Regions from separate parts of the Homo sapiens genome. Here region 1 is linked to region 2. Evidence: fine-mapped expression QTL. A gene starts in region 2. The other region holds a variant in brackets. All regions are shown on one strand. Distances are between the middles of the regions.

The links. PIP is the estimated chance that this variant, and not a neighbour inherited with it, causes the effect.
Region 1: its variant is fine-mapped to the expression of CGAS in monocytes after interferon gamma (Fairfax 2014, PIP 0.95). The same link has a PIP of 0.9 or more in monocytes after LPS.

Annotation. Positions count from the first base shown.
Region 1 is chr6:73,418,388-73,429,928 of GRCh38, forward strand. It overlaps CGAS (cyclic GMP-AMP synthase), which reads right to left. Exons shown (of 5, transcript NM_138441.3): 4 at 10,322-10,424; 5 at 5,324-7,191. The coding sequence ends at 6,840. Among named protein-coding and RNA genes, the nearest start is that of CGAS, 28 kb to the right of the region's middle. RefSeq lists a silencer at 3,199-3,493. The variant C/T (reference allele first, on the strand shown) is at 6,906.
Region 2 is chr6:73,448,991-73,457,950 of GRCh38, forward strand. It overlaps CGAS (cyclic GMP-AMP synthase), which reads right to left and starts at 3,307. Exons shown (of 5, transcript NM_138441.3): 1 at 2,535-3,307. The coding sequence starts at 3,191. RefSeq lists a silencer at 2,729-2,938 and an enhancer at 3,109-3,588.

The DNA of each region.
Region 1 (11,541 bases), 29 kb before region 2:
GAAAAATTGAGGCAGGAGAATAGCAGAGGAAGTCAGGGACAAAGGGAACCCTTTGATGTAGGCTAGCTTAAGTGATAGCAAAAACAAAACATGTAAGATAGCAGAAGCAGAACATACGAAATAAGGGAGTAAGCAGTGAGTTAAAACATACAGGATAAAAAATAAGTCACAAGGACTTGCAGTAGGAATTTGGTCACAAAAAATGAAAGTAAAGATGAGCAGCTGGGTGCGGTGACTCACATCTGTAATCCTAACACTTTGGGGGGCCGAGGTGGGTGGATCATTTGAGGTCAGGAGTTCGAGATTAGCCTGGCCAACATAGTGAAACTCCATCTCTACTAAAAATATAAAAATTACCCAGGGGTGGTGGGGCATGCCTGTAATCCCAGCTACTCAGGAGGCTGAGGCAGGAGAATCACTTAAGCCTGGGAGGCAGAGGTTGCGGTGAGCCGAGATCACGCTACTGCACTCCAGTCTGGGTGACAGAGTGAGACCCTGTCTCAAAAAAAAAAAAAAAGTAAGGTTAAGCAAGGATGAGCAATTAGCTTACAAGAAATAAAGTGAGGGTAAGCAAGTGAGGAAAAGAAAAGGCCATGAAATGTAACAAACCAGGCTGATCTCATCTCACAGAAGTCAGTCAGCTCTCCCCTTTGTGAGAGTGCTTAATAAGCTTTTGCTGCTTTGCTTTATTTACTATCTGTGTGTGTCTCATCCAAGTCTTTGTTCAAGACACCAAGTGCCAGGCCAGGCACGGTGGCTCACGTCTGTAATCCCAGCACTTTGGGAGACCGAGGCAGGCAGAACACTGGAGGTCAGGAGTTCGAGACCAGCCTGCCCAACGTGGTGAAACCCCGTCTCTACTAAAAATATGAAAATTAGCCAGGCATGGTGGCGCAGGCCTGCAGTCCCAATCAGGAGGCTGAGGCAGGAGAACCACTGGATGCCAGGAGGCAGAGGTTGCAGTGAGCTGTGATCGGGCCACTGCACTCCAGCCTAGGTGACAGAGTGAGACTCCGTCTCAAAAATGAACAAACAAAACAAGACACCAGGAGCCTGGAATTGCGTGGCACTACCCAGTAATAAAATGTTAGATTAATAATGCTATTTCTCTGTATTTTCACTGTTTGTTTTTTTTTACACTTTAACGTGAACATCTGACTTTTTCACATTGAACACATATTACTTTTTTTTTGAGACAGAGTTTCACTCTTGTTGCCCAGGCTGGAGTGCAATGGCACAATCTCAGTTCACCCACAACCTCCGCCTCCCAGGTTCAAGCGACTCTCCTGCCTCAGCCTCCCAAGTAGCTGGGATTACAGGCATCCACCCTCATGCCTGGCAAAATGAAAAAGATTTAAAAGTAATATGTGTTCAGGCCACCGCGCCCGGCAAAATGAAAAAATTTAAAAATAATATGTGTTCAGGCCGTGCACAGTGGCTCACGCCTGTAATACCAGCACTTTGGGAGGACGAGGCGGGCGCATCACCAGAGGTCAGGAGTTCGAGCCCAGCCTGACCAACACGGAGAAACCCGGTCTCTACTAAAAATACAAAATTAGCCAGATGTGGTGGCGGGCGCTTATAATCCCAGCTACTCGGGAGGCTGAGGCAGGAGAATCGCTTGAACCCGGGAGGTGGAGTTTGCAGTGAGCCAAGATTAGGTCATCGCACTCCAGCCTGGGCAACAAGAGGGAAATTCTGTCTCAAAAAAAAAAATTGTTTTCATTTTTATCAAAGTCAAATATACATGTAATGTATGGAAGCAAATGGTTCTACAAGACTTATTTATTTTTGTTTTTATTTTTTATTTACATTTCTCTGCCAGAAATCTTGGACTTACAAAGCTTATTTAAAAAGTAGTCTGTTGTCAGAAAAGATGGTAGCCTAGTCTTGGTATTCCTGTGGAGAACTTAGAAAACCTGAAGAGTACTTGTACCCAAATTGGATTGTGTTTTAATGGACAATGGCTATATTTTCCCCATGTCAAAAGAATACCAATGAAAGCAGCTGTTTTTCAAGTTCCTAGGGGTCCAGTTGTCCAGAATCCCCAAGGATAAGATGCTCCCTATAAGAGCAGAACCTTAACCTCACTCAGTGACATCGTAGGAACCTCTAGCTGTGGAATTTCTTAGGAACTCAAACTTTCAAAAGCATCCAGAGAGTCAAAGCTGGGGGAAAAAAAGCACATAAAAATAACAAAATTTTTAGGCCAGGCGCAGTGGCTCACGCCTTAATCTCAGCACTTTGGAAGGCCAAAGCAGGTGGATCATGAGGTCAAGCATTCAAGACCAGCCTGGCCAACATAGTGAAACCCTGTCTCTACTAAAAATACAAAAAATTAGGTGGGCGTGGTGGTGGGTGCCTGTAATCCCAGCTACTTGGGAGGCTAAGGCAGGAGAATCGCTTGAACTCGGGAGGCGGAGGTTGCAGTGAGCCAAGATCGCGCCACTGCACTCCAGCCTGGGTGACAGAGCAAGACTCCGTCTCAAAAAAATAAATAAATAAATAACAACAATAATAAAATTTTTTATTATTTTTAATTTAATTAATTTATTTAGAGATGGAATTTCGCTCTTGTTGCCCAGGCTGGACTGCAATGGCACAATCTCGGCTCACTGCAACCTCTGCCTCCCAGGTTCAAGCAATTCTTCTGCCTCAGCCTTCCTGAGTAGCTGGGATTACAGGCATGCGCCACCACACCCGGCCAATTTTGTATTTTTAGTAGAGACGGGGTTTCTCCATGTTGATCAGGCTGGTCTTGAACTCCTGACCTCAGGTGATCCGCCCGCCTCGTCCTCCCAAAGTGCTGGGATTACAGGCATGAGCCATGGCACCCAGCCATAAAATTTATTTTTTATATTCTACTAATAAATGCTGTTGTACTTGGGCATGATCAATCATATAACTGTCATTTTTTGGTTTTATGCTGTTTTGGTTTGGTTTTTGCCAACTATATTCACATTTACAAACTAACTAAATAAAATCATTTTATTTAAAAAAAAAAGTAGTCCCGAACCCTTCCACCCTTCATTTTCCACTCCCAAGATGTAACCTTTTCATCTTTTAGCCATTAATAACTTGCTTATACTGCAATTTCTTGGTTTTAAAAATTTGACATTTACTGACTTCCCACTATAAGGAAGATTAATTCAGTTTTTGCATACCTGTGACAGTCGGACCCTCAGGGTTGTCCTGTGGCCCCCCACCTCCTGAGGTTCATATCTATGTAGTAAGGAATTTAACCTAACCCAAAGAAAAGTCTCACCTTTGCCCTTGGCTTCTGAAAGGTAATGGCTGAATTCTTGGAATGTGCCAGAAAGTATAACAATGTGATTTATGGTGGGGTCTTTGGGTCATGGTATCAGCTTATACTGTTTGCCTTCCAGAGGAGCTGGAGACTGAGGTTAGACATATGTCCAGCCAACCATGAGCTGCAGTAAGAACTCTGGACATGGCTCAGGTGAGCTTCCCTGGCTGGCAATATTCTGCGTGTATTGGCACACATTGATGCCAAGAGAATAACATGTCCATGACTCCACCAAAAGACAACAGAAAGTGCTGTGTTTGCTACTCTCTTAAACTCTGCCTTACGCACTTCTTCCTTTGGCTGATTTAAACTTGCATGCTTACTATATAATAAACTGCAACCATGAGCATAGTGGTTTTAGTGAGTTCTGTGAGTCTTTCATCAAACCTCAGGGTGGTTTTAGGAATCCCTTGAAATTGCAATTGTTGACAGAAATGAGGGTGGTCTTATGGGAACTGTTTTCCCCCTAACTGTATCGCTGGCATCTGAGACAACAAGAACACCCTTGAGTGATTCCTCTCCTCTTGGGTATGAGAGGGACCTTTGACTTGCTTCCAATCAATAGAATACAGTACAGGCAACGGACTGTACATAATTATGTGTATGTAATTGTGTTAAACAAGTTTGTAGCACTCCTCTTGCTGGAGTACCTCCCTTGCTGGCTTTGAAGAATCGAGCTACTGTTGTGGGCTGCCTATGTTGGGAGGCTCACATGGTAAGGAACTGAAGACAGCTTCTAGGAACTGAGGGCAACCTCTGGCTGACAGCAAGAAACTGAAGCCCTCAGTCCTACAAATGTAAAGGAACTAAATTCTGCCAACAAAAATGGTTCCTTCTCCAGTCAAGCCTCAGATGAGGCTACAGCGCTGGCTGACGTCTTAATTATAGCCTTGAGAGACTCTGAGCAGAGCCACACCCAGAATTTTGGCCCACTGAAAATGTGAGATAATAAATATGTGTTGTTTTAAGCCTCTAAGGTTGTGGTTAATTGTTACACAGGAAACTAATGTAATCTCCCTACCACTGTCACCATACAGGAACTAAGCCTATTGTCCTATCCTAACCACAGAGTGGGTAATCATAATTTCTTTCTTTCTTTTCACATTAAAAAAGTTTTTTTTTAATTTTTTTTTTTTTTTTGAGATGGAGTCTCGCTCTGTCACCAGGCTGGAGTGCAGCGGCACTGTCTTGGCTCACTGCAACCTCTGCCTCCTGGGTTCAAGCGATTCTCCTGCCTCAGCCTCCCAAGTAGCTGGGATTACAGGCACGTACCACCATACTCATCTAATTTTTGTATTTTTAGTAGAGATGAGGTTTCACCATGTTGGCCAGGCTGGTCTTGAACTCCTGACCTCATGATCTGCCCGCCTTGGCCTCCCAAAGTGCTGGAATTACAGGGGTGAGCCACCGCCCCTGGTTTTTAATTTTTTTAAAGTCGACAACAGTCCATAACTTCAATAAGATTAATAGTCAATGGTTACATTACTATGACTTTGTCAATACTTAAACAGCTGAGCAATATTCTTATATCAGACTTTTCTTTCATGCATTCATTTTTCTTATGGAGTTAAAAATTGCTTAGATTGGCTGGGCACAGTGCTCACATCTGTAATCTTAGCACTTTGGGAGGCTGAGATGGGTGTATCACCTGAGGTCAGGAGTTTGAGACCAGCTTGACCAACATGGTGAAACTCTGTCTCTACTAAAAATACAAAAATAATTAGCCAGGCATGGTGGCGTGCAACTGTAGTCCCAGCTACTTGGGAGGCTGAGGCAGGAGAATTGCTTGAACCGGGAGGAGGAGGGTGCAGTGAGCCAAGATCGTGCCACTGCACTCCAGCCTGGGCGACAGAGTGAGACTGTCCCAAAAAAAAAAAAAATTGCTTAGATTATTTTATTTGCATAGTGGTTTATTTATCATTAATTGTCCCCAAAACTCTTCAAATGTCTAATGTTTCTCTTAGTATGTTCAAACATAGTAGGCTGTTAAACAAGATGTATAAAGCAAAAACCATAAAAAATTCAACTCCAATTTATTCTCAAAAGCTTGAATGAGAAAAGAAATCAACTCCATTAAAATTTAAAAATCTTTACAATAAACAAAACAATACAAAACAAAAAAACCTTGTTTACTAAAAGACACCAAAAAATGTGCAGACAACCCATATGGCAGAAGTTATTTGTTACACAGACAACGAATGAAAGATAAATACCCCAAATATATTAAGAACTTCCCAAAACAATGAGAAGAAAACTAACCCATAAGAAAATGTGCAAAATATATGAACAGGAAATATTTAACAAACAGCAGTTGCCTCTAGGCTGAATGCTACCTAAAATAAAAAAAGTGTTACTGAAAGTAAAAATAAATAGATAACAGAAAATAAGTTAGGTTTTACATTTAGTCACGTATATTAAAATAAAGTATCTTATGTTTTCTTTTAAGATTATGTATTTCAGCCAGGCGTGGTGGCTCACACCTGTAATCCCAGCACTTTGGGAGGCCAAGGCGGGCGGATCACAAGGTAAGGAGATCGAGACCATCCTGGCTAACATGGTGAAACCCCATCTTTACTAAAAATACAAAAAATTAGCCGGATGTGGTGGCGGGCACCTGTAGTCCCAGCTACTCGGAAGGCTGAGGCAGGAGAATGGCATGAACCCAGGAAGCAGAGCTTGCAGTGAGCCAAGATCATGCCACTGGACTCCAGCCTGGGCGACAGAGCGAGACTCCATCTAAAAAAAAAAAAAAAAAATTATGTATTTCCTGGCCAGGCACGGCGGAGAGCTGTTTTTCAGTAAGAACTTGATGAATTTAATTAAGGCAATATGTACTTTATCTTTTTTTATTCCAACCTAAAAATGTCATTTATTTATTTATTTGCCTGCATGATAAAGCAAACATGGTAATGTTTTTAGATTTCAAATACTACTTTTGCTTCTTATTCCTTGACTAATCTTTTTCCTAGGATAGTCAATCCTTTATACTGATTAGAGTTTATTACAACAAACTGAAAACTGAATAATTATTTACATTCATTTTAGTCAATTATTGCTGTGACAAATTTCAAACATTCCAATTATTACAGTCACTAATTTTTGTTATTTTGTTGCTTTTCTAAAAAATTATTTTAATAATTTCCTAATTTATTTTTCTTATTTATTTATTTATTTTTTGAGAGGAAGTCTTGCTCTGTCACCCAGGATGGAGTGCAGTGGTGCCATCTTGACTCACTGCAACCTCCACCTCCTGGGTTCAAGTGATTCTCATGTCTAAGCCTCCCGAGTAGCTGGGATTACAGGCATGCATCACCATGCCCGGCTAATTTTTATATTTTTAGTAGAGATGGAGTTTCACCATGTTGGTCAGGCTGGTCTCAAACTCCTGACCTCAAGTGATCCGCCTGCCTCGGCCTCCAAAGAGCTGGGATTACAGGTGTGAGCCACAGCGTCTGGCCCCTTTTCAAATTTTTCTTGTATTCTCCAGGATTTAGGGTGACTCTAGTTCTTAGATCTTTCTAAAAATACAATCTCAAAATTCATCAAAAACTGGAAACTCATTGTTTCTTTCATATTCAATTTGCTTTGTCAGAAATTC[C/T]TTACTTCTTTTGTCAATTAAGTTGCTAGAGAATAGATTGAATTCAGGAATAAAATAATTCTCAAGTTTTTCTGTCCTGAGGCACTGAAGAAAGTATGTCACGCAGTTATCAAAGCAGAGGCCCAGGTCTTTGCGGTCCCACTGACTGTCTTGAGGGTTCTGGGTACATACGTGAAAGAAGGCAGTTTTCACATGATAAGAAGAGAATTTATCCAGATGTTTTTTGTCTTTAAACCTTTCTTTCAGCTGTTCTAAAAGGTATTTCATTAGTTTTAAACAATCTTTCCTGTTGAATAAAAAAGGAAAACACTTATTTTTACTTATTTACATTCAACAAAGGATTTTAGGCATCTCATAGCAAAAATATAAACAATAAAGATATATAATAACATAAATATAGGCCGGGCGTGGTGACACAACGCCTGTAATCCCAGCACTTTGGGAGGCTGAGGCAGGGGGATCACCTAAGATCAAGAGTTTGAGTCCAGCCTGACTAATATGGTGAAACCCCGTCTCTACTAAAAATACAAAATTAGCTGGGCGTGGTGGCGCACGCCTGTAATCCCAGCTACTCTGCAGGCTGAGGCACGAGAATCGCTTGAAGCCAGGAGGCGGAGGTTGCAGTGAGCCAAGATCGCGTCATTGCACTCCAGCCTGGGCAACAAGAACGAAACTCTGTCACACACAGAAAACAAAAACAAAAACAAAAAAGCCGGGCGCGGTGGCTCATGCCTGTAATCCCAGCACTTTGGGAGGCCTAGGCAGGCGGATCACGAGGTCAAGAGTTCGAGATCAGCCTGGCCAGTATGCTGAAACCCCATCTCTACTAAAAATACAAAAATTAGCCAGGTGTGGTGGCGTGCACCTATAATCCCAGCTACTCGGGAGGCTGAGGCAGGAGAATCACTTGAACCCAGGAGGCAGAGGTTGCAGTGAGCCAAGATCATGCCACTGCACTCCAGCCTGGGCAACAAGTGAGACTCCATCTCAAAATAAAATAAAATAAAATAAAATAAAATAATAAAATAAAATGAAATAAATGAAATGAAATGAAATGATAAAATAAAATAAAATAAAATAAATACAACAGTCACACTAAAATCTGATTATGTTTTCAAATATATGGTTTGAAGTTTCAAAAACACATTTTTTCCCTCTCTTTCCCATTCTTAGCTTAAATATATTCTATGAATTTCTTCAACTGTATAAAGCTAACAGATATTTATACTATTTTTTTTTTTTTTGAGACAGGGTCTCACTCTGTCACCCAGGCTGGGATGCAGTGATACAATCTCGGCTCACTGCAACCTCTGACCCTCCCCTCACCCCCCTCAAGCGATCCAAAATCTTGTTTTGTTATAAAATTATTTTACTTTATTGAACTGCAAATTTAATATAAATTTTTTCTTTTCTAAAATCCACTGATTGTATCACAGAATTATTTACATTATTAAGAGTACCATAGATAATCTGCCATCTCATCTAGTTATTTAGTAGTTGACAAAATGTACTATTTATGAAACTATTTAGCCTTATCAACAATATTTCTTTTTTTTTTTCTTTTTCCTTTTTTTTTGAGATGGAGTCTCGCTCTGTTGCCCAGGCTGGAGTGCAGTGGTGTGATCTCAGCTCACCGCAACCTCTGCCTACTGGGTTCAAGCGATTCTCCTGCCTCAACCTCCTAAGTAGCTGGGATTACAGGTGCATGCCACCTCGCCCGGCTAATTTTTGCATTTTTGTAGAGACGGGGTTTCATAACGTTGGCCAGGCTGGTCTCGAACTCCTGACCTCAGGTGATCTACCTGCCTCGGCCTCCCAAAGTGCTGGGATTACAGGCGTGAGCCACTGTGCCTGGCCAACAATATAGTTTTCTTAATGCTTACTTCAAAGCCTGCATATGAGATCTTAAAGAACCTCTGTGCCTGCATGTTGGGCATTTTTGTTTTGACTTTTTAACTTTTGTGATCTTTATACTGGCCAACTTACTTTATTTATTTATTTATTTATTTATTTATTTATTTATTTAAGATGGAGTCTTGCTCTGTTGCCCAGGCTGGAGTGCAGTGGCATGATCTCAGCTTATTGCAACCTCTGTCTCCCGGGTTCAGGTGATTCTCTTGCCTCAGCCTCCTGAGTAGCGGGGATTACAGGCACGTGCCACTGCGCCCAGCTAATTTTTGTATTTTTAGTAGAGACGGGGTTTCGCCACGTAGGCCAGGCTGGTCTCGAATTCCTGACCTCAGGTGATCCACCTGCCCTGGCCTCCCAAAGTGCTGGGATTGCAGGCCTTGAGCCACCATGCCTGGCCAATACTGGCCAACTTTAGAAACTCAAATGAACAATTCCTTTTCAATCTTAGTTCTTTATGGTGTGTATGCCATCACAAAAAAAAATGGTGGGGTGCAGTGTCTCATCCCCGTACTTCCAAGACTTTGGGAGGCCAAGGCGGGAAGTTTACTTGAACCCAGGAGTTGGTGACCAGCCTGCCTGGGCAACAAAGGGAGACCACCATCTCTACCAATAAAAAAAATTTTTTTTGAGACAGGGTGTCACTATGTCACCCAGGTTGCAGTGCAGTGGCACGATCATGGCTCACTGCAGCCTTGATTTTCTGGGCTCGAGCCATTCTCCTACCTCAGCCTTCCAAGTAGCTGGGACCACAGGCACCAGTCACCATGCCTGGCTAATTTTTAAATTTTTTATGGAGGTGGGGTCTCACCATGTTGCTAGGCTGGGATTACAGGTGTGAGCCAACAGGCCCTCTACAAAATTTTTTTTTAAATTAGCCGAGCATGGTGGCATGCACCTGTAATCTCAGCTACTTGGGGGGCTGAGGTAGGATGATTGCTTGAGCCCAGGAGATCGAGGCTGTGGTGAGCCGTAATTGTGCCACTGCACTCCAGTCTGGGTGACAGAGTGAAAGTCTGTCTCAAAAAAAAAAATTACTCACTTAGTGTTGTTTTCAGTTTGGCCAATCAATCCCTAGCCGTCAACACAACCCAACTATCCCAAAGCAAGCCCAGTATCTAATAAGAGCGACCTTTTGGCCTCCTCCAATTATATGGCATTAATATCCATTACTTTTAAACAAGCAGAATACTAAGACCCATCGAATTGTCATGGCTAGTGCTCATACCCTCTCACTCTGTCCTACTGATACATCTATACAAAAACACATTCATCTGATCCAGGGTTCAGAACTACTATTCCCCGGCCTTGCCTTCTAACAACACCCTTTCCTTGGCCCTTTGGATCTAGCTTCTCTGGTTTCATACTCACACTCTCCCCAGCTCAACCCAATCCTGCCCTGCCCCCCAGACCCAACCCAGCTCAGCTCTTCAGGTCTGAGGTGTGGAGTCAACAAATAATTAAGCATACCATAGATAATCTGTCATTTAACAAAATAAGGCTGTTACCTGCAACATTTCTCTTCTTTGTTTTCACAGCACGTTTTAGATTTTCCATGATTGTTCAAAATTTCCTTTTCGATGTGAGAGAAGGATAGCCGCCATGTTTCTTCTTAATTTCAAAAAGAAAAACAAAAAAGCACTTTACCCAAAGCATCCATATCTAAACAATATTCAAGTGGTTTCCCTCATGAAAATATCCTGGGGCTGGGCATGGGGGCTCACGCCTGTAATCTCAGTACTTTGGGAGGCCGAGGAGGGTGGGTCACCTGAGGTCGGGAGTTCGAGACCAGCCTGACCAACATGGAGAAACCCATCTCTACCAAAAATACAAAAAAAAGTTATCCTGGCATGGTGGCACATGCCTGTAATCCCAGCTACTCGGGAGGCTGAGGAAGGAGAATCACTTGAACCTGGGAGGTGGAGGTTGCAGTGAGCCGAGATTGCACCATTGCACTCCAGCCTGGGCAACAAGAGCAAAACTCCATCAAAAAAAAAAAAAGAAAGAAAGAAAAAGAAAATATTCTGAAAAAATCTTAGGAGTGAATCAAAAGAAGTGAACAGATAAATAATTATGTATAAAAATAAGTACACTGAGACAAAAAATGGGCCTAACCGAAAAAAAAAGGAAGTCACAGTTTAATATAGTTAGCAATAGTAAGATGTATTACCTTTTATATATTGCTAAATTCCCTTTGTTAAATATTTTGTTTCAATAATAATTTGAATCAATTTATTCACTTTTTCTGTACCATCCTTACAGGTTTTATATTAATACAAAATGAATTGGGGACCATTTCCTTTATTCTTATTTATGAGAGTTTGTGTAAATATAGAATGATTTCACCTGGGCGCGGTGGCTCACGCCTGTAATCCCAGCACCTTGGGAGGCCAAGGTGGGCGGATCACAAGGTCGGGAGATCAAGACCATCCTGGCTAACACAGTGAAACCCTGCCTCTACCAAAAATACAAAAAATTAGCCGGGCGTGGTGGCGGGCGCCTGTAATCCCAGCTACTTGGGAGGCTGAGGCAGGAGAATGGCGCGAACCCGGGAGGTGGAGCTTGCAGTGAGCGGAGATCGCGCCACTGCACTCCAGCCTGGGCAACAGCACAAGACTCTGTCTCAAAAAAAAAAAATTTCTCCCCGAGTCTTACCATGGCTAGCTCTTTTATGCTCTGACCACCCTGTTACTTCGTGGTTTTATACTAGCAAAGTATAAGTAGTTTA
Region 2 (8,960 bases):
AGGCAGGAGACTCACTTGAACCCGGGAGGCGGAGGTTACAGTGAGCCAAGATCACATCACTGCACTCCACCCTGGGTGACAGAGCAAGACTCCATCCCCAAAAAAAAAGAAAAAAGAAAAAGAAAAAAAGAAAAAGTTTTAGATAAAACAAATTTCACTGGATTTCTTTTCATTGGCATAATTTTTAAAAACAAAGTGGTTCTGGGCTGGGCATGGTGGCTCCCACCTGTAATCCCAGCACTTTGGGAGGCCAAGGCGGGAAGATCATGAGGTCAGGAGATAGAGACCAGCCTGGCTAACACGGTGAAACCCCGTCTCTACTAAAAATACAAAAATTAGCTGGGCATGGTGGCGGGCGCCTGTAGTCCCAGCTACTTGGGAGGCTGAGGCAGGAGAATGGTGTGAACCCAGTAGGCAGGGCTTGCAGTGAGCCGAGATCGCGCCACTGCACTCCAGCCTGGGTGACAGAGTGAGACTCTGTCTCAAACACACACACACACACACACACACACACACACAAAGTGGTTCTGAATGGAGACTGTCTTCTGAATGTCTTGTTCTCTAATTCTAACTAGTAACTTTCTTTTTCCTTTGGACCCGCCATATACAGTAATTGAACTGAATTGATACTTACATAATAAGAATCATGCTCAATCAGAGACATATCTGATGCTGAAAAGTAAATTAGTTAATTAAAAAGAATCATGCTCAAGACACAGTCTGGGCTGGGTGCCGTGGCTCAAGCCTGTAATCCCAGCACTTAGGGAGGCCGAGGCAGGTGGATCATCTGAGGTCAGAGTTCGAGACCAGCCTGGCCAACATGGTGAAACCCCGTCTCTACTAAAAATACATAAATTAGCCGGGAGTGGGGGCAGGCACCTGTAATCCCTGCTATTTGGAAGGCTGAAGCAGGAGAATCGCTTGAACCTGGAAGCCGGAGGTTGCAGCGAAACCTAGATGGCACCACTGCACTACAGCCTGGGCAACAAGAGTGAAACTCCATCAAAAAAAGAAGAAAGAAGAAAGAAAAGAAAGAAAGAACAAAATAAAGAGAGAGAGAGAGAGAGGAAGAGAGGGAGGGAGGAAAAGAGAGAGACAGAGAGATAGAGAGAAGAGAAGAGAAGAGAAAAAAGAAGAGAAAAGAAGCCGGGTGTGGTGGCTCACGCCTGTAATCCCAGCACTTTGGGAGGCTGAGGCTGGCAGATCACCTGAGGTCGGGAGTTCTAGACCAGCCTGACCAACATGGAGAAAGCCCGTCTCTACTAAAAATACAAAATTAGCCAGGGTGGAGGCTCATGCTTGTAATCCCATCTACTCAGGAGGCTGAGACAGGAGAATCGCTTGAACCTGGGAGGTGGAGGTTGAGGTGAGCTGAGATCGCGCCATTGCACTCCAGCCTGGGTAACAAGAGCGAAACTCCGTCTCAAAAAAAAAAAAAAGAAAGAAAGAAAGAAAAAGAAAAAGAAACAAATCTCTTGCTGGGCAAGAAACACGCTCCAGTCAGGAACCTGCTTCTAAACTTTCAATTTACACAGGAATGATTAATGACTCAATCACCCACAAGCAAATGGAGCTGTGTAATACACACGTCGAAGCAATTATACGGAATGTGTATCTAGAAAGCGTTTTAGTATCTGTAGGAGATATTCTTATTTGTTTGTTTAACATTATACTGTAAGCTTCCCATGATTTCTGTGTAAGAAACTGGGGACAGACGGCCGGGCGCGGTAGCTCACGCCTGTAATCCCAGCACTTTGAGAGGCCGAGACGAGCGAATCAAGAGGTCAGGAGATCGAGACCATCCTGGCTAACACGGTGAAACACCGTCTCTACTAAAAATACAAAAAAAATTAGCCGGGCATGGTGGCGGGCGCCTGTAGTCCCAGCTACTCGGGAAGCTGAGGCAGGAGAATGGCGTGAACCCGGGAGGCGGAGCTTGCAGTGAGCCGAGATAGCGCCACTGCACTCCAGCCTGGGGGACGCAGCGAGACTCCGCCTCAAAAAAAAAAAAAAAGAAAAGAAAAGAAAAAAGAAAAAAAAGAAATTGGGGTCAGACGGGATAGCAGGAGAGGGGGCAGGGAGGAAGAGGGGGAGAGAAACTGAAGATCTTTTTTTCTATGGAGTAAGAGGTCTTCCTCATAGGAAAAAGTCTACGTGGAATTTTTAACAGACCACTTCAAATTATCCAAGTCAATATCTGACTCGGGACCTCAGGTCCACACCATCAAACACTGCCCTGTTACGGAAACTCGATACATGTCGGCTTGCATGAATGAACCCATACATTTGAATTCCCCCGGGAGCAGTGTCTTGAAATTAGCCAGCAATCAGTACCGGTTGGTTGTCTGATCGTTGGATGTGTAGATGAATAAACGAACGGTTTGTCGTTTTACTTAGACTAGGCTACCGAAAAACATGCAAAAGTCTAAGTTACTTCCGAAGGGAAGTGAGGGGCGCGACCCGGGGAAGGTAGGGACTGCGGATTGCGGAAGGCCGAGCAGCGGGGCTCGGCGGGAGGGCGCCAAGCAGCTCACCTTCACGTGCTCATAGTAGCTCCCGGTGTTCAGCAGCCCGACGCCTCTGAACGCGGAGTCGCACTTCAGTCTGAGCAGCAGGTGGTCCACAACCCCTTTCACCATCCCCGCCGCCGTGGAGATATCATCGCGGCTGAGCTTCAACTTCTCCAAAACCGCCCGGAGCTTCGAGGCCCCAGGCGCCGCATCCCTCCGTACGAGAATGGGGGCCGAGACCGGCAGGCCGGGGCTGGGCACGTCCCAGGGCCCGGGCGGAGGTCTTGGCTTCGTGGAGCAGCGCGCGCCCCTCTGGCGGCAAGAACCAGCCCTGGAAAGAGCCGGCTCCCGAGCCGCAGGAGGCTCCAGCCCCTCTGCCCCAGGGGCGCTGGTGGCGTCAGACGGCTGCGTGTCCTGGGCGCGCTGAGGGGCCTTTTTGGCGCGGGCCCCAGTTGCGCGGACGGGCGGCCTCTCCTGGGTGTCCGGGGCGCTCTTTTTCTGCCGGGATCCCGACTTCCTGGCGGGGCCGAACTTTCCCGCCTTAGGCAGGGCGGCCTCGGGGGCAGCCGGAGACTCGGTGGGATCCATCGGGGCGCCCCTGGCATTCCGTGCGGAAGCCTTGGGGGCAGTGGCTCCGGCCTCGGAAGCTCTCTGCATGGCCTTTCCGTGCCAAGGCTGCATGGCTGGCGCTTTCTGTTCCCCGAAAGAAGAATCCGTTTCAGGAAAAGGCCGCAAGAGGAAGAGCCAGCAGCAGCTGTTGGAAACCAAGCACTACTGGCGGGCACACAAGAGTCTGCGACCCGAAGGGGAACCCCAGGCTGGGAAGTCGCTGGGAGCCACGCCCATGCCGCGAAGAGGCTGGCCGCGGCCTTTCCTGAGGCTACAAAAGTCTCGAAGTTTCTAACTCTCCAGGCAATCCGTGCCCCTGTCTTAAGAAGATGAGGTAGGGCCGGGCGCGGTGGCTCACGCCTGTAACCTCAGCATCCGAGAGGCCGAGGCAGGCGGGTCGCTTGAGCTCAGGAGTTTGAGACCAGCCTGGGCAACCCAGCAAGACCTGGTCTTTCTTATAATTAAATATATGTGTGTGTGTGTGTTGCCTGGGCACACTGACTCACGCCTGTAATCCCAGCAATCTGGGAGACCGAGGTGGGCGGATCACCTGAGGTCAGGAGTTCAAGACCAGCCTGGCCAACAAGGCGAAAGAAACCCCGTCTCTACTAAAAAATACAAATATTAGCTAGGCGTGGTGGCGGGCACCTGTAATCCCAGCTACTCGGGAGGCTGAGGCTGGAGAATCACTTGAACCCGGGAGGCGGAGGTTGCAGTGAGCTGAGACGTGCCACTTCACTCCAGCCTGGGCGACAGAGCGAGACTCTGTCTCAAAAAAGAAAAAGAGGCCAGGCGTGGTGGCTCACGCCTGTAATCTCAGCAGTTTGGGAGGCCGAGGCGGGCGGATCACGAGGCCAAGACATCGAGACCTTCCTGGCCAACATGGTGAAACCCCGTCTCTACTAAAAATACAAAAAATTAGCCGGGCTTGGTGGCGCCTGTAGTCCCATCTACTCGGGAGGCCGAGACAGAGAACTGCTTGAACCCGGGAGGCAGAGGTTGCAGTGAGCCGAGATCGCGCCACTGCACTCCAGCCTGGGCAACAGAAAAAGAGTCCATCACAAAACAAAACAAAACAAAACAAAAACATTGACAGAGAAACTTTTCTCTTTCAAGTGAAAGTTTTTTTAAATTTAATTTTGGTTTGAGTTAGGGGGGCGCAATCTCGGCTCACTGCAACCTCAGCCACCAGGGCTCAAGCGATCCTCCCACCTCAGCATCCTGAGTAGCTGTTACTACAGGTGCGGACACCATGCCCAGCTTTTTCTTTTCTTTTTAATTTTTTTGTATACATGGGGAGGTCTCACTATGTTGCCCAGGCTGGTCTCGAACTCCTAGACTCAAGCGATTCTCCCTCCTCAACCTCCCAAAGTGTTGGGATTGTAGGCATGAGCCACTGTGCCCTGCCACAGAAACTTTTTCTTTTCTTTTTTTTCTTTTTCTTTTCTTTCTTTCTTTCTTTTTTTTTTTTTTTTTTTTTGAGACAGAATTTCGCTCTTGTCACCCAGGCCGAAGTGCAATGGTGCGATCTTGGCTCACTGCAACCTCTGCCTCCTGGGTTCAAGCAATTCTCCTACCTCAGCCTCCCGGGTAGCTGGGATTACAGACGCCCGCCACCACGCCCGGCTAATTTTTCGTATTTTTAGTAGAGACGGGGTTTCGCTATGTTGGCCAGGCTGCTCTCAAACTGCTGACCTCAAGTGATCCACCCGCCTCGGCCTCCCAAAGTGCTGCGATTACAGGCGTGAGCCACGGCGCCTGGCCAGAAACTTTTCCCTTTTTTTTTTTTTTTTTCCTGAGATGGAGTCTCATTCTGTCCCCTAGGCTGGAGTGCAGTGGCACGATCTCGGCTCACTGTAACCTCTGCCTCCCGGATTCAAGCGATTCTCCTGCCTCAGCCTCCGAAGTAGCTGGGACTACAGGTGTGCGCCGCCATGCCCGGCTAATTTTTGTATTTTTAGTAGAAAGGAGTTTCACCATATTGGCCAGGCTGGTCTGGGACTCCTTATCTCGTGATCCACCTGCCTCGGCCTCCCAAACTGTTGGGATTACGGGCATGAGCCTCAGCGCCCGGCCAACTTTTTCAATGTAAATTTAAATAGGGTTTTTTAAAAATCAATAAGAAATAAAATAATAATTTTTAAAAAGAAAAAAATTAATAACAAATGAAAAATACTTTGAAAAAAGAAAAAAATAAGAAAGAGAAAATATTCAACTTTTACAAGATGGAATGAAACAAAGATTGACTGCAATTGGAGTAAATACTTCTATTTGACATTTTTTAAAAAGCACAGAAAATCTTTAAAATGTTGTGTAAAGTTTCTGCCTGGTGCGGTGACTCACGCCTATAATCCCGGCACTTTGGAAGGCGAAGGTGGGTGGATCACTTGAGGTCAGGAGTTCAAGACCAGCCTGTCCAGCATGGTGAAAACCCATCTCTACTAAAAATACAAAAATTAGCCAGGTGTGGTGGGCCATGCTTGTAAACCCAGCTACTGGGGAGGCTGAGACGGGAGAATTGCTTGAATCGGGAAAGCGGAGGTGGTAATGAGCTGAGATCAGACCACTGCACTCCATCCTGGGCGACAGGGCAAATGACTCTGTCTCAGGGGGAAAAAAAGTTGTGTAAAGTTCTCTCTTTTTATTTTATTTTATTTTATTCATTTTTGAGACGGAGTTTTGCTCTTGTTGCCCAGGCTGGAGTGCAATGGTACAATCTCAGCTCACCACACCCTCCGCCTCCCGGGTTCAAGAGATTCTCGTGACTCAGCCTCTTGCGCAGCTGGGACTACAGGCGTGCCCCACCATGCCCAGCTAATTTTTGTATGGTTTTGTAGAAATGTGGTTTCACCATGTTGCCCAGGCTGGTCCCCAACAAGCTATCTGCCCGCCTCAGCCTCCCAAAGTGCTGTTACTGGCATGAGCCACTGCACCGGACCTGGCATTTACATTTTAAATCATTCATACTGCTTCAGCTGTTGTGATTCTAGAGTATCTCAATACAGGCTTTCAAATATCTTTTTTTTTTTTTCGAGATGGAGTTTCACTTTTGTTGTCCAGGCTGGAGTGCAATGGTGCTATCTCGGCTCTCTGTAACCTCCGCCTCCTGGGTTCAAGCGATTCTCCTGCCTCAACCTCCTGAGTAGCTGGGATTATAGGCGCCTGCCACCACACCCAGCTAATTTTTTTACCTTTTTAGTAGAGACGGGGTTTCACCATGTTGACCAGGCTGGTCTCGAACTCCTGACCTCAGGTGATCTGCCCCCTTTGGCCTCCCAAAGTGTTGGGATTACAGGCGTGAGCCACCTTGCCTGGCCTTCAAGTATCTATTTCTAAAGCCCCTGATAGAAATGCATATTAGAGGTCAGGCGCAGTGGCTCATGCCTATAATCCCAGCACTTCAGGAGCCCTAGATCTTCTGAGATCAGGAGTTCAAGACCAGCCTGGCCTACATGATGAAACTTTGTCTCTACTAAAAATACAAAAAATTAGCCGGGTGTGATGGCACATGTCTGTGATCCCAGTTACTCGGGAGGCTGAGGCAGGAGAATAGCTTGAACCCAGGAGGCAGAGGTTGCAGTGAGTGAGATCCTGCCACTGCACTCCAGCCTGGGCAACAGAATGAGACTCTGTCTAAAAAAAAAAAATAATAATAATAAAAGAAATGCATATTAGACAAGAACCTCTTGGGTTTAGAAAGCCTTGACTACTTTTTTTTTCTTTGTACTATTTGAACCATTTTTGGGGGGTGTATAATTCAATGATATTAAGTATGTTCACATTCCTATGCAACCATCACTATCATCTGTCTTCAAAACTCTTCATCTTGCAAAACTGAAACTCTGTACCCATAAACAATAACTCATCTTTCTCTCCTCTCTCTAGCCCCTGGCAACCACCATTATACTTTCTGACTGTGATTTTGACTGCTCTAAGTACTTTATGTCAGTGAAATGATGCAACGTTTGTCTTTTTGTTACTGGCTTATCACTCTTAGCCAATGTTCATCTATGTTGCAAGAATTTCCTTCCGTTTTAGGGCTGAATAATATTGCTTTGTATGTATATATCACATTTTGTTTATCCATTCACCTGTCAAAGGACAAAAATGCCTTACTTTTTAAAAAGATTTCCCTGAAACAAGTATTTTTATATATCCTTCTGTTAAGTTCAAAGAGATTTTTACCACCCTGGAGCAATGAGCCGTAGTTTGAATTAGGATGCCAGAAAGGTGTATTTTTCTCTTGTGAAATATATAAGGAGGAGAAATAGAAGGAGGACCATTGCATAGTCAGACTTGTTCCCAAGCCAGCCAATTTCAGGGAAGAGTAAAATGGAAGTTGAAATGTGGAAATCCATTTCCTTGAAACTGCAAGAGCTGTCCAGGTGTGGTGGCTCATGCCTGTAATCCCAGCAGTTTGGCAGATCCACACAGGCAGATCACCTGAGGTCAGGAGTTCAAGACCAGCCTGGCCAACATGGTGAAACCCCATCTCTACTAAAAGCACAAAAATTAGCCAGGTGTGGTGGTGCATGCCTGTAATCCCAGCTACTTGGGAGGCTGAGGCAGGAGAATCGCTTGAACCCAGGAGGCAGAGGTGGCAGTGATCTGAGATCATGCCAATGCACTCCAGCCTAGACGACAGAGTGAGACTCTGTCGCCAAAAAAAAAAAAAAAAGAAAAAAGAAAAAAAAAAGAAACTACAAGTGCATCTGGATAGTCTTCCAGGATGTTCAGGGGTAACTACCACATTCTGAGGGCCTCTGCTCTATGGTTCTGTTTGTTTTCTCCAAGGACTTCAGCTGCTTGTCATGAAATCCTGTAAATGACTCTACAGTTAGTTTAGTGCTCTCTTCCGGGCTGGGTGCAGTGGCTCACTCCTGTAATCCCAGCACTTTGGGAGGCTGAGGCGGGCAGATCTCAAGGTCAGGAGTTCGAGACCAGCCTGGGCGAGATGGTGAAACCTGTCTCTACTAAAAATACAAAAATTAGATGGGCGTGGTGGTGGGCCCCTGTAATCCCAGCTACTCCGGAGGCTGAGGCAGGAGGATTGATTGAACCTGGGAGGTGGAGGTTGCAGTGAGCCAAGATGGCGCCATTGCACTCCAGCCTGGGCAACAGAGCAAGACTCCATCTCAAAAAAAAAATACATAAAAATAAATGCTCTCAGCCGGGCGCGGTGGCTCACGCCTGTAATCCCAGCACTTTGGGAGGCTAAGGTGGGTGGATCACCTGAGGTCGGGAGTTTGAGACCAGCCTGACCAATATGGTCTCTACTAAAAATACAAAAATTAGCCTTGCGTGGTGGCCGGCACCCATAGTCCCAGCTACATGGGAGGCTGAGGCAGGAGAATTGCTTGAACCTGGGAGGCGGAGGTTGCAGTGAGCCGAGATCACGCCACTGCACTCCAGACTGGGAGACAGAGCGAGACTCCGTCTCAAAAAAAAAAAAATAATAAAATAAAATAAATGCTCTCTTCCATCAGTTTCTAAAGTCCCCTTAAGTCACTGGTGGTTTCTTTAACCAGAAGCTGCAAGCAACAATCCACTGGGCCAGATCAAATATCTCTACTATTGGCCTACCAAAGGAGGAGAACTCATTCTTTATTCAACCTTTCTGCAGCAATCAGTGTCCAAATCACAGAGAAAATGACTGTTTAGTTGAGTCTTGATGTGGAACTTGGATTTTATCTAGTAGGAAACCCCAGGAAATTTATTTGTGGGTATATATTTTATCTAGTTGACTTTACCACTTCTTTTTTTTTTTTTTTTCTGAGACAGCATCTCACTCTGCCACCCAAGCTGGAGTGCAGCAGTGCAATGTCAGCTCATTGCAGCAAT